3 linked regions of the Homo sapiens genome follow. The protein of the gene in region 1 purifies or fractionates together with the protein of each later gene. This does not show direct contact. Each region holds a gene or a part of one and is shown on either strand. Other genes may lie near its edges.

What was found.
Region 2: the proteins of SYAP1 (region 1) and GPR107 purify together in Homo sapiens (affinity purification with mass spectrometry; one large-scale study listed by BioGRID and IntAct). This does not show direct contact.
Region 3: the proteins of SYAP1 (region 1) and HDAC11 purify together in Homo sapiens (co-immunoprecipitation; one large-scale study listed by IntAct). This does not show direct contact.

What each region holds. Positions count from the first base shown.
Region 1 is NC_000023.11:16,750,523-16,754,172, forward strand, and holds part of SYAP1 (synapse-associated protein 1), read left to right. Parts: intron 1-3,650.
Region 2 is NC_000009.12:130,133,772-130,137,300, forward strand, and holds part of GPR107 (protein GPR107 isoform 3 precursor), read left to right. Parts: intron 1-1,253; coding exon 1,254-1,350; 3' UTR 1,351-3,529. UniProt on the Homo sapiens protein: Has been proposed to act as a receptor for neuronostatin, a peptide derived from the somatostatin/SST precursor.
Region 3 is NC_000003.12:13,478,787-13,482,536, reverse strand, and holds the start of HDAC11 (histone deacetylase 11), read right to left. Parts: upstream 2,232-3,750; 5' UTR 2,190-2,231; coding exon 2,188-2,189; exon of another isoform or gene 2,091-2,187; intron 1,292-2,090; coding exon 1,143-1,291; intron 1-1,142. UniProt on the Homo sapiens protein: Responsible for the deacetylation of lysine residues on the N-terminal part of the core histones (H2A, H2B, H3 and H4).

The sequences.
Region 1 (3,650 bases):
CCACCGGTAAATGTTGGTGGCATTAATAAAAGTGGGGCTGTGTCTGGCAGCAAATTCCATCTTGTTACCTGTCCTCGCTTGTATAGGTAATCGTGCATTTTGCCTCTATCACTTACATGCTAGCTTCCAGGCCTAGCTTCTCCATTCACAGGTGTGACAACTGTGCATTCTGATGCCTCATCTAAGATAAGCTCTGTCCAGATTCACAAGCCTGAGTCTCATTATTTTCTGCTAGTTCTCACTGATTTTTTTTTTTTTTTTTTGAGACAGAGTCTCACTCTGTCACCCAGGCTGGAGTGCGATGGCGCCATCTTGGCTCATTGCAACATCTGCCTCCCCAGTTCAAGCGATTCTCCTGCATTAGCCTCCCAGGTAGCTGCGATTACAGGTGTGCACCACCACGCCCGGCTAATTTTGTATTTTTAGTAGAGACGGGGTTTCACCATGTTGCCTAGGCTGGTCTCGAACTCCTGACCTCAGGTGATCCGCCCTCCTTAGCCTCCTAAAGTGCTGGAATTACAGGCATGAGCCACCGCACCTAGCACTGACTGATCGTATTCTACTCTTTCAAAGTCTTTTTCTGTCAGGCTTTCTTCTCGTTTTCCCCCCATTCTAAGAACCTTGCATCCCTTCTAAAAAAATGGGATAGACTGGGCATGGTGGCTCACGCCTGTAATCCCAGCACTTTGGGAGGCCGAGGCGGGCAGATCACGAGGTCAGGAGATCTAGACCATCCTGGCTAACACAGTGAAACCCCGTCTCTACTAAAAATACAAAAAATTAGCCAGGCACGGTAGCACGTGCCTGTAGTCCCAGCTACTCGGGAGGCTGAGGCAGGAGAATCGCTTGAACCCAGGAGATGGAGGTTGCAGTGAGCCAAGATCACGCTATTGCACACCAGCCTGGGTGACAGAGCGAGACTCTGTCTCAAAAAAAAAAAAAAAAGGGATAAAGAGGCATTCTCCCACCCTTTTGTCATTTCTACTTGCCAAAAAAAAAACAACAAAAAAAAATTAGAACATAAAATGAGCCACTCTTCCAGGCAAAAACAAACAAAAATAAAATTTCACACACCCTGCAGGTCACCAAAGCCATTCCTTGGGTGTGTACATGTTTGTGTGCATGTATATGTGCTTTTTTAATGCTTTTTTTCTTTTCTTTTTTTTTTTTTTTGATACGGAGTTTCGCTATTGTTGCCCAGGCTGGAGTGCAATGGTACAATCTTGGCTCACTGCAACCTCCGCCTCCTGGGTTCAAGCAATTCTCCTGCCTCAGCCTCCTGCGTAGCCGGGACTACAAGCATGCACTATACCCAGCTAATTTTTGTATTTTTCATAGAGACGGGGTTTCACCATGTTGGCCAGGCTGGTCTTGAACTCCTGACCTCAGGTGATCTGCCCACCTTGGCTTCCCAAAGTGCTGGGATTACAGGCATGAGCCACTGCACCCGGCCTTTTTTTTTTTTTTTTTTTTTTTTGAGACAAAGTCTTACTCTCGTCCAGGCTGGAGTGCAGTGGTGCGATCTTGGCTCACCGCAGCCTCCACATGCTGGGTTCAAGCGATTCTCCTGCCTCAGCCTCCCAAGTAGCTGGGACTACTGGCACATACCACCACATCGGCTAATTTTTGTATTTTTTGCAGAGATGCGATTTCACCATATTCCCCAGGCTGGTCTCAAACTCCTGACCTTGCATTCCTCCTGCCTTGGCCTCCCAAAGGCACTGGGACTACAGACGTAGGCCACCATGCCTGACCCATTTTGCTTTTATTTAGTTTTGTTTTTTGTATTCAACCCTCAAGATTTTTATTTAATTTCTCTGAAGCGAGCACAGTTATCAATGGATTATTATTATTATTATTATTATTATTATTATTATTATTATTTTGAAACACAAACTTATGGAAAAATTGGAGGTACAACATAAAGAACTTTTCTCCAAATCACTTGAGACCTAATGTTGCATCACTCCCAAATGCCGTAGTGTTTTACAAGCATTCTCCTACATGACCACAGTGTGCCCATCCAAATTAGGAAATGATCATTTACACGTTATTACCATCTCACTCTCAGACCCCATTGAGGTTTTTCCATTTGTCCCAATAATGTCCTTTTTAGCAAAAAAGCCCAGTTCACACTCACAGGTTACATTTGGTTTTCATGTCTCATCAATCTCCTTATGTCTGTTGCATGCTGTCAGGTGGCACATGCAGCCATTTGTCCCATTACTGTTCATACTTGGGTCATTTGATGCAGGTGGTGTTTGCCAGGTTTCTTGACTGTAAAGTTACTCTTTTCCTCTTTGAATGTAATTACTATTTTGCTGGGATGTGCTTTGAAACTGTGAATACTCTATTCATCAGACTTTCCATGTATTTATATTTGTACAGACTCATGCAATGGTCTGTAATTTTGATGCTCAAATTATTACCAATTTGAGGCCAGGCATGGTGGCTTACACCTGTAATCCCAGCACTTTGGGAGGCCTAGTTGGGAGGATCACTTGAGCCCAGGAGTTCAAGACTAGCCTGGGCAACATGGTGAAACCTCATCTCTACAAAAAATTAGCCAGGCATAGCTGGGCATGGTGGTGGGCGCCTGTGATCCCAGCTACTCAGGAGGCTGAGGCAGGAGAATTGCTTGAACCTGGGAGGCGGAAATTGCAGTGAGCCAAGATCGCGCCACTGCACTCCAACCTGGGTGACAAAAGTGAGACTCCGTCTCAAAAAAAAAAAAAAAAAAAATTAGCAAGGCATAGTGGCATGTGCCTGTAGTCTCAGCCACCCGGGAGGCTGAGGCAGAAGCATCACCTGGGCTGGTGAGATCAAGGCTACAGTGAGCCATGTTCACACCACTGCACTCCGGCCTGGATGACAGAGTGAGACTTTGTCTCAAAAAAAAATAATAATAATTACCAATTTGGCCAATGGGAGACTATTCAAGCTGACTTGTGTCTTTCTAACTCATCCCCATCATTTCTTCACACGTTTCCTTGCTTTCTGGCACAAGATAGTATTCTTCCTCTGCTCTAACCCTGGAATCAGCCATTTCCCCAGGGAGCTCTGGATCCTTTTAGTGGAAAGTCTAAATCTTGGTATTTTGCAAGATCTGGATGCTAGGTGTGCTCATTGCCATTGGGGTGCCACTGCTCTGCATGCTCTCAGTGGACACAGCCAGGGAATGTGTGTGTGCTCATTTCTGTGTGGAATGAAAACCATGTGTTCATGGTGCTACCTCATGACGGAGGTCATTTTCATTTTTTCCCTTTCCATGTTTGTAGCTCTCCTCTCTGATGGTGAGAAACCTGGTTTCTACTATCTTTAATATTTTTACTTATTCCCTGTGCATGTGGCTGATCTGTCATTTTTGCTGCCACTCACTCCTCTGCTCAAACACCCTTCTCTCCCTGCTTGGTTCTCACTCTCCGTTCCAGGCCACCCCCCTGTGTGGACACTTACCTCACCCACTTGGGCACCAACACATCACACCAGGTGATTCTAATAGGTAGCCAGGTTTGAGAACCACCAAGAGTTTTCAGGTTGAACTGCACTTCAATCTTTTTATCAAGCATTTCCCACCCCATTGCTAACTCTTACTGGTTACTAGTTATTAGCAAGCTGCCAAACATTCTCTTTCATAAGGAACAACAGCC
Region 2 (3,529 bases), on another chromosome or scaffold:
ACAAATAACCTGTGAGTCTAAAGGACTCGTTTGAGAAAGGTTCCGGCTTGGGGGATTCTTTGAGCCTGGGCATGGTAGCACCATAATGGCAAGAATGAAGAGATGAAGAAGAGGGGGAAGTTTTCTTCCCTTACCCCATACAAACATTTACTTACCATGAGGTCCAGCTGCATGCACTCTAGATGGGTCACATATACGGCCACTGTGTTGCCATTTGTAGGGGAAGGGGTTAGGTAGTTGGCAGAGGGATGGGTTGGGTCCTTGGAAAGAGCCTGTTGAGTTGATTGATTGAATTTATTTTACTGATGAGGAAATTTCTTTTGGTCCACCATGGGGGAGCATAAATCCTCATTGTTTCCTCGCTTGCAGGGAAGATGCTGGGCCAAGCGGCTTTTGACACCCAGTATCTCTGCCTAGTTCTGCTACTCACAGAGCCACCCAGTTCCCTCATAGACCAGCTCACCTTCTGTGAGGCAAGAGATTATCCTCTTGAGAAGGTGGGGCCCGTGCATGTGATTCCTTCTAATGGAAAGGGCTGCCTTGCTCAGCTCCTCATGCCCTGCGAGACCAGCGATCTTCCATTTTTAATCCTTGATTTCAACGAATGGCTCCATGGGGCCTCCTCAGAGCCAGGCACCAACAGACAGAGCCCCGGGAGCTCACAGAGTGGAGGCAGAGGCCATGCGCTGAGGCACAGCCACATGGCCCAGCCCCAGCTAGCAGAAAGCAGCCAGTTCTCTGTCTATAGTGGCCAAAGAATCTTTGATCCTGGAAGGTTCCTCTAAACCTGTGGTTCTGTCCCCTGGCTCAGAAATGATCCATTGTGGCTGCTTATTAAAAATGTCTGGTTGGCTAATTAGCTTTCTTTTCTGAATGTCCATTAAGAGTCAGATTTCAGTCTCATAAGCGTAACTATCACATATCTGTGCGCCACAAAAATTCCGCAAGCTGTGACAAAAAGATTCATGATGATTGTGATAACGATAGCTGGTGTTTATTGATTAGGCACTCTGGAGAATCTCATTTTTCCTCATGACAGTTCTGGAAAGTGAGAATTACTTAAGCACAGAGAGTTCAAGTGACTTGGCCAAGGTTACACAGCTAGTAAGGAACGAACCAGGAATCACACTTAGATTTTGTCTGTTTCAAAAACCAACACCCATCATCAGTCCTAATCACCGTGCTGTGGCAGAGATGGCCTTTTACTAAGAGACTGTGAGATGTTCCTAATTGTTTTTTCTTTCCTTGTTCAGTGTGACAACATCTGGGGTGATGGAAAGTATGAAGAAAGTCAAGAAGGTGACCAACGGCTCCGTGGAGCCCCAGGGCGAGTGGGAAGGCGCCGTGTGACAGAGCCGACCCTGAGGATGGCACTGTCCAAGGAAACTGTTAACTTATTCATAGTCCTATTGGACAGCAGGAGCAGCTCCTACAGTGAACTATTGGCACCACCGACAGTGACACCAGGGCACATGGCTGGAGCACAGTGCCGCGGAAACCTGATTTTGTACTCTCTTTTATGGAAACGATCTGTGGCTGTTTAGAGGCAGCTGGATCCTCTTTCAGGCGGGAATGGGAGGGCGGGCACAGGGAGGAGGAGAGGAAGAGAAAAGGAAGAATTCATTTTTAATTTAGGTTTCTTTTTTTCTTCTTCATTTCGGAGCTCTAAGGTGTATGCAGTTGTGACCCCATGTGTGGGGAAGTGTAGCAAGGACGGCTGGTGGAGGGGGAAGGAGGGTGCGAGGTGTCTGTCTGATGCTTTAGGAAATGTCTACTGAGGACCCTGGGACTTAAGAAGAAGGGCGGGGAGAGTGCCATTGCCTGTTTGGGAGACAAAAATGAACGAAAACAGGTGACTTTGGAAAGCAAAGTCAAAACCCAGTTTAGGATGTAGCACCTGCCCCAGGATTCCTGCCCTCGGCTTTGCCCCAGACCCTTATTCCAGATGCTGAGAGTGACCAGGACAGCAGCTCCTGAGGCCCAGTGGTCTTCTTTCCAACAGGAAAAGAAGGCTGTGATGTCGCTGTCAGGATCATGCCCTGTGGCACAGCACAGGTGGTGGGAGGTGGTTTTCTGACTGAGATGTTGCCTGATGGATGGAAAGAAATGTATTTTTAAGTTCAAAAAGCATTATCCTGTGGCGTTGCCTGGACATCCACTCCCTGACAGCCCAGAGCAGCACTGTCTGGCTTCCCTTCATGCTTGTGGCTTTGTTGTGTTTGATCAGAATTTTGGGGGAAATGGAAAGTTTTCCTCAAGGAGCAGCTGGGGGCAGAATAGGTAGTATTTAAGCAAATACTTAAGTCCAAGCAAATCATCCCCATTAAAAAGCTTTTCCTGTAGGCTAGTAGGATTTCTAAATAGATGAATTCAACAGACTTGGTCCCCATAGTCCAAGAGTATGTATGTGAAGAAAGTGAGCATGATTCAACAGTTTCACTCTCAGGGATTTTAGGATGGCAAAATACTTCACAGAAACTCAATGATTAAGTTCCCTTCCACACTTCCAGAGCTTGAATGAACACAGGTAGCCACCTAAATTGAGCAGTATTGCAACTCAGAGAGAAAATCATCTGAATAGTAGGACAAGCTCAGAAGGTACATTGTGACTGAGGGCTTAAAAGGAGACCAAAACATGGCCCCATCAGGGAAGCTTCTTAATGCTTGGGGGGCCAGCTAGGTAGGGTTGCTTCCAAAAGCTGGAGCCCACCCCTGCCTAGGGGTTGTCAGAGAGCCACACCTGCAGGGGAACAGGTACCTCCGAGGGTGAGAGTCGTGGTCTCTGGGAGTTGTTTTCTCACCTCTGGCTTAGAAGGGTCAGGCAGAAACCACAGGATGTGGGGTCACACTCACTGTCCCAAGTTTGGGAACCTGAAAAAGTCTCCATTCAGAACATGGTTGTTCTCCCTGTCCCATGCTATCTTATCTTCCTAAATGACTAATGAGGAAGCGGGTGTTCTTTTTCTGCACTTTGATTCGCCATCTGGGTTCTGTAGGGTGCTCTGAAGGTGTGATCTGCCTTCTGGCTGATGTGGAGGAAGAGCAAGCGCCTTCCCAGGCCACAGCTGCTCACCTCTCGGCAGATATTTTAGGCAAGCATCCGTGTGTCTTCCCATCTTCAGGAGAAAGGTAAATGCACCCTAAGTGTTCACTTCTGGACCTTTTTCAAGTTCACTTGGGACTGTGTGACAGAAGGGAGTTGGAGGGAGGATGGGAATATTTTTAACACTTTGTTTTCCTGTGCAGAAACATAATACCAGTTTTCGCAGAAATGTGTCTCAATCTGTGACTACCAAAGCCCTCCTCAGTCCTTCCCTCAGAGGGACACATTTGCTGTTTCTCCCGCAAGCAGATGTTGTGGATGAGGCGATAGACTCCTTGGCAAGAACGAAAGGTGTGATGAAACCTCCCTGCTCGGAAGGGTCTCCGTGGAGGTGTCCTCATTTCACATGCTGGGTTTTGCAAGCGAGGAAGCCAGGCAGTGGAGGAACTAGAGAGAGGCAGGCGTGTGTGTGGACAAGCGCTGGAG
Region 3 (3,750 bases), on another chromosome or scaffold:
TGCTGGGATTACAGGCACGAGCCACTGCGCCCGGCCTCCCTCCACCTTCTGATGATATTACAGGAGGCTCAGTGTGGCATGGCCTCGCAACACCTGCCTGTGCTTTGCTCATCTTCCGTTCAAACCACTAATCAGTCTCACAGCCTGCAGGCAATAGTAACCAGCCTGGATTGAATTATACTGTTGTTTTCATTGCATTTACTTTTTTACCATGACCTATTTATGGCAAGTGAAACTGCCTTTTCCCATTTTGATGACATAATGTTTCCTTTTAAAACAAGTTTAAGTGAATTTCCCACCTAAATCAGGCCCCTTGATTACAAACCACAGTTAAAACGATATGCTCTTCGAAGCATCATTTTGCTCAAGGGGATGAGCCCTAAAGGTAGGGCGCCTGGAGCTCTGAGTTCCAAACCCAACTCCGCCTCTTGTAACTGTGTTACTTCAGCCACTAATGGGAGCTGTGTCCTTCCCTGGAAAGAGGTCACAAGCAGGCAGCCAGTGTGCCCAGTTCGGTCTACAGGTGGGCTTTTACAATCTTATAATGAGTGCCATATTAAGAAATCAGGGCCGGGTGTGGTGGCTCACGCCTGTAATTCCAGCTACTTGGGAGGCTGAGGCAGAAAAATTGTTTGAACCTGAAAGGCGGAGGTTACAGTGAGCTCCTGAGCCTCTGCTGCGATTGTGGTGCCTACCCCGAGGGCTGCTGTGAGGACTGGACTGGAATTGGGTGCACATGTTTCCTAATCATTCTAGGACACAATTTCCCCCATCTGTAATCAAGAGAGGTGCGGTGGAGGTGCTCTACCTCCTGACTCTCTGAACCTTAGGAAATGGACTCCTCCAAGCTTCACCTTCCCTGTGCCCATCAGTAATCAGCTACCTTTCCACTAGGCCTCTTGGGCAGAGGCAGGACTTAGGCCCACAGGATGGGGAGCCAGGGAGAGTCTGAGTCAGGGACATCATATCGTGATTAGGAGTCTGTGTTGGAAAAATCATTTTGGGCGGAAGCATGGGTGGAAGGCCATCCGAGGGCTGAAACTGAAGATGGGAGAGAGCCTGAGGCTTATGTTGGGGATGAGGACGGAGAGGACAGGTGGGTTGGAGGAAGCAGATGAGAGTCCAAGGGGGACCTTCCATACCTTTTAGGAAATTGATCACTTTGCCCCATTTTCCGGCATCAAAGGGATGCAGCTTCTCCAGGCCCATGAAGGTGATGTTGTAGCGCGGCGAGTACACGATTGGCCAGCGTGTCTCTGGCACATGCTGGTACAGCTGGGTTGTGTGTAGCCTACCGTGTGGAAAAAGACAGACGCACAGCTGGGGCAGCCTCGGCAGAAAGCAGCTCCCTCCCGAGCCCGCCTGGACTGACCCACCAGCCATTGCCCAGCACCACTAGCCCCTCAGCCGCAGACAAGGGCCCCTCAACAACAGCTGCTTAAACTGGCTGCCTTTCCCGGAACCCAATTCCAATCCAGTCCTCACAGCAGCCCTGGGGGTAGGCACCACAATCGCACCAGAGGCTCAGAGAGCAGACCAGGTGTGCCCAAGGTCACAGTGCAGGTCTGTGGAGAAGCAGGCGTGCACTCAGGTGTGTCTGGCTGCAAGGCCTCCGCGCATCACCTCTGCACCGTAATAAATGCCCCCACAGCTGTGTGGCACAAGGCTTCGGCTGCAAAATGTGTGGCTGTTGTGAGGACTCAGAGAATGCAACTGAGGAGCTGAGCACAGTAAGCACTCAGAAACCCAAGTCGGGACCCAACCTGAGCCAGGGCGGGGGGCGGGGATCCCCTGACCCCGCTGCGCTGCTAACCCTTCCCATCACACCCTGGCAGTCGTCACCCAGAGACAGAAATCCGCCCCAGTGGCTGCCTCCGTGGGGGCGTCCGCGTAGCCAGGGGGCTGGGCAGCGCAGACGTCAGACCCGCGCACATCGCCCGACCGCTCCGGGTCCGGGCCCAGGCCCGCGGCCGGCGCGCGTCCCTCGGGCCACCGAGCAGGGGCGCGGGGCTGGCCTGGCGCGCCGGGAGGGCCTGGAAACACCCGTCCCGAGCGTCCCTCACCCCTCACCAGCAAATCTGGGCCCTTACCTGGCGCGCCCGCCCGGCCGTCCCCGCCCTCGCCCTAGCGCGCCCGCCCACCGGGACCCCTGGGAGCCCACCCCCGCCCTCGCCCCGCGGCACTCACATCCCGGGGCCGGCCCTCCCAAAGCTGGCCGCAGCTCCGCGACCGGGCGGGGCGGGGCGGGGCGCGGGTGGGGCCAGCCCAGGACACGCCCCCGGGCTTAGCCGCGTCCTCTGGGGGCAGAGCTCTGGCCGATTTGGCCCGCCCCGCCAGTGTTGCGACACAGAGAGCCTGCCCGCAGGAAGGCCACCCCCAACGCCCATCAAGCCCGAAGTCCCGCCTCCGCAGGCAAATACCCGGTGGAATCCCGCCTGGTTCGGAAGCTCCGCCCCCTGGCGGGAGGGCCAAGCGGGTTTCACCCCGGCCTCGCGGAAGGGGCGCGACCACCGTATGTCCTGTTCCTGCGCTTCCCAAGCTGGGTAGAAACGGCGAGAGGCTGGGGGTTAGAAACGACAGGTTCCCGGCGGGCTGTGCCGGGGCTTCGCTGTGTGACCTTGGGCTGGCGTCTGGGCTCTCTGGGCCCTTGTTTCCGCGAGTTAAACGTAGGGGCGGGGGAGTTTCTCTGGCCCTGCCGCCTGTGACCTAAGGAGCCCCGTGACCTCTCCGACCCGAGCCCACCCCCGGCCCAGTCTGCGAGCAGCTCCGGGACAAGCACTCCCGGCGAAGACATGTAGGCTCTCAGAGCCTGCGTTTCCCTCTGTAGAGCAGGCCTAGTTACTGTCTTCAGGGTGCACGCGTCTCCGTCCCCGACCCGCACCCTCACCGCCGGGGTAAGCTGAGCCAGGCCCAAGCGACAGCTGGGGTTGTCCGTGGGGCTGCAACCCAGGAGGAGGCCCCAACAATAGAGCCCCAGAGGACGGAGACAATGGGCCTCTCTGTCGGCCCAGCCGTCCCCGCCATCCAAACAGAAGCAGCTGACGGAGGACTGCCGGGCTGGGATCCCTGGGCTCCGCGGGGGCGGCTGTGTGCCAGGGCGGGGCACAAGGGAAGCGCACAGACGTTTGAAGAGGGGCCCCCGTGTGCCTGCCATGATTGCATGATGGCATCTGAGCCTCACAACCTAATCCTGAGAAAGGTGCCATAATCACCCCAACTTTATCTTGAGGGAACTGAGGTTCGGGCCTGGATTAAACCCAAACTCGGCCACCCGCCAGCATAGTGGCTTTGGGCAGGTTGCTTCAGCCTTCTGGTCCTTCATGTCTGCATCTGAAAATGAAGTACTGGGCCGGGTGCGGTGGCTCACGCCTGTAATCCCAGCACTTTGGGAGGCCGAGGCGGGTGAATCACCTGAGGTCAGGAGTTCGAGACCATCCTGACCAACATGGTGAAACCCCGTCTCTACTAAAAATACAAAAAATTAGCTGGGCGTGATGAAGGGCGCCTGTAATCCCAGCTACTCGGGAGGCTGGGGCAGGAGAATCGCTTGAACCGGGGAGGGGAGGTTGCGGTGAGGCCGCGCCATTGCAATCCAGCCTGGGCGACAAGAGTGAGACTCCATCTCAAAAAAAAAAAAAAGGAAGAAAATGAAGTTCTGGTTGCACTTCATTCTCTGGATTTCATGGGCAAGTCCAGGGAATCAAGAGACAATAATGTTGATTATTATTCAGAGACCATCTGTCATGTGCT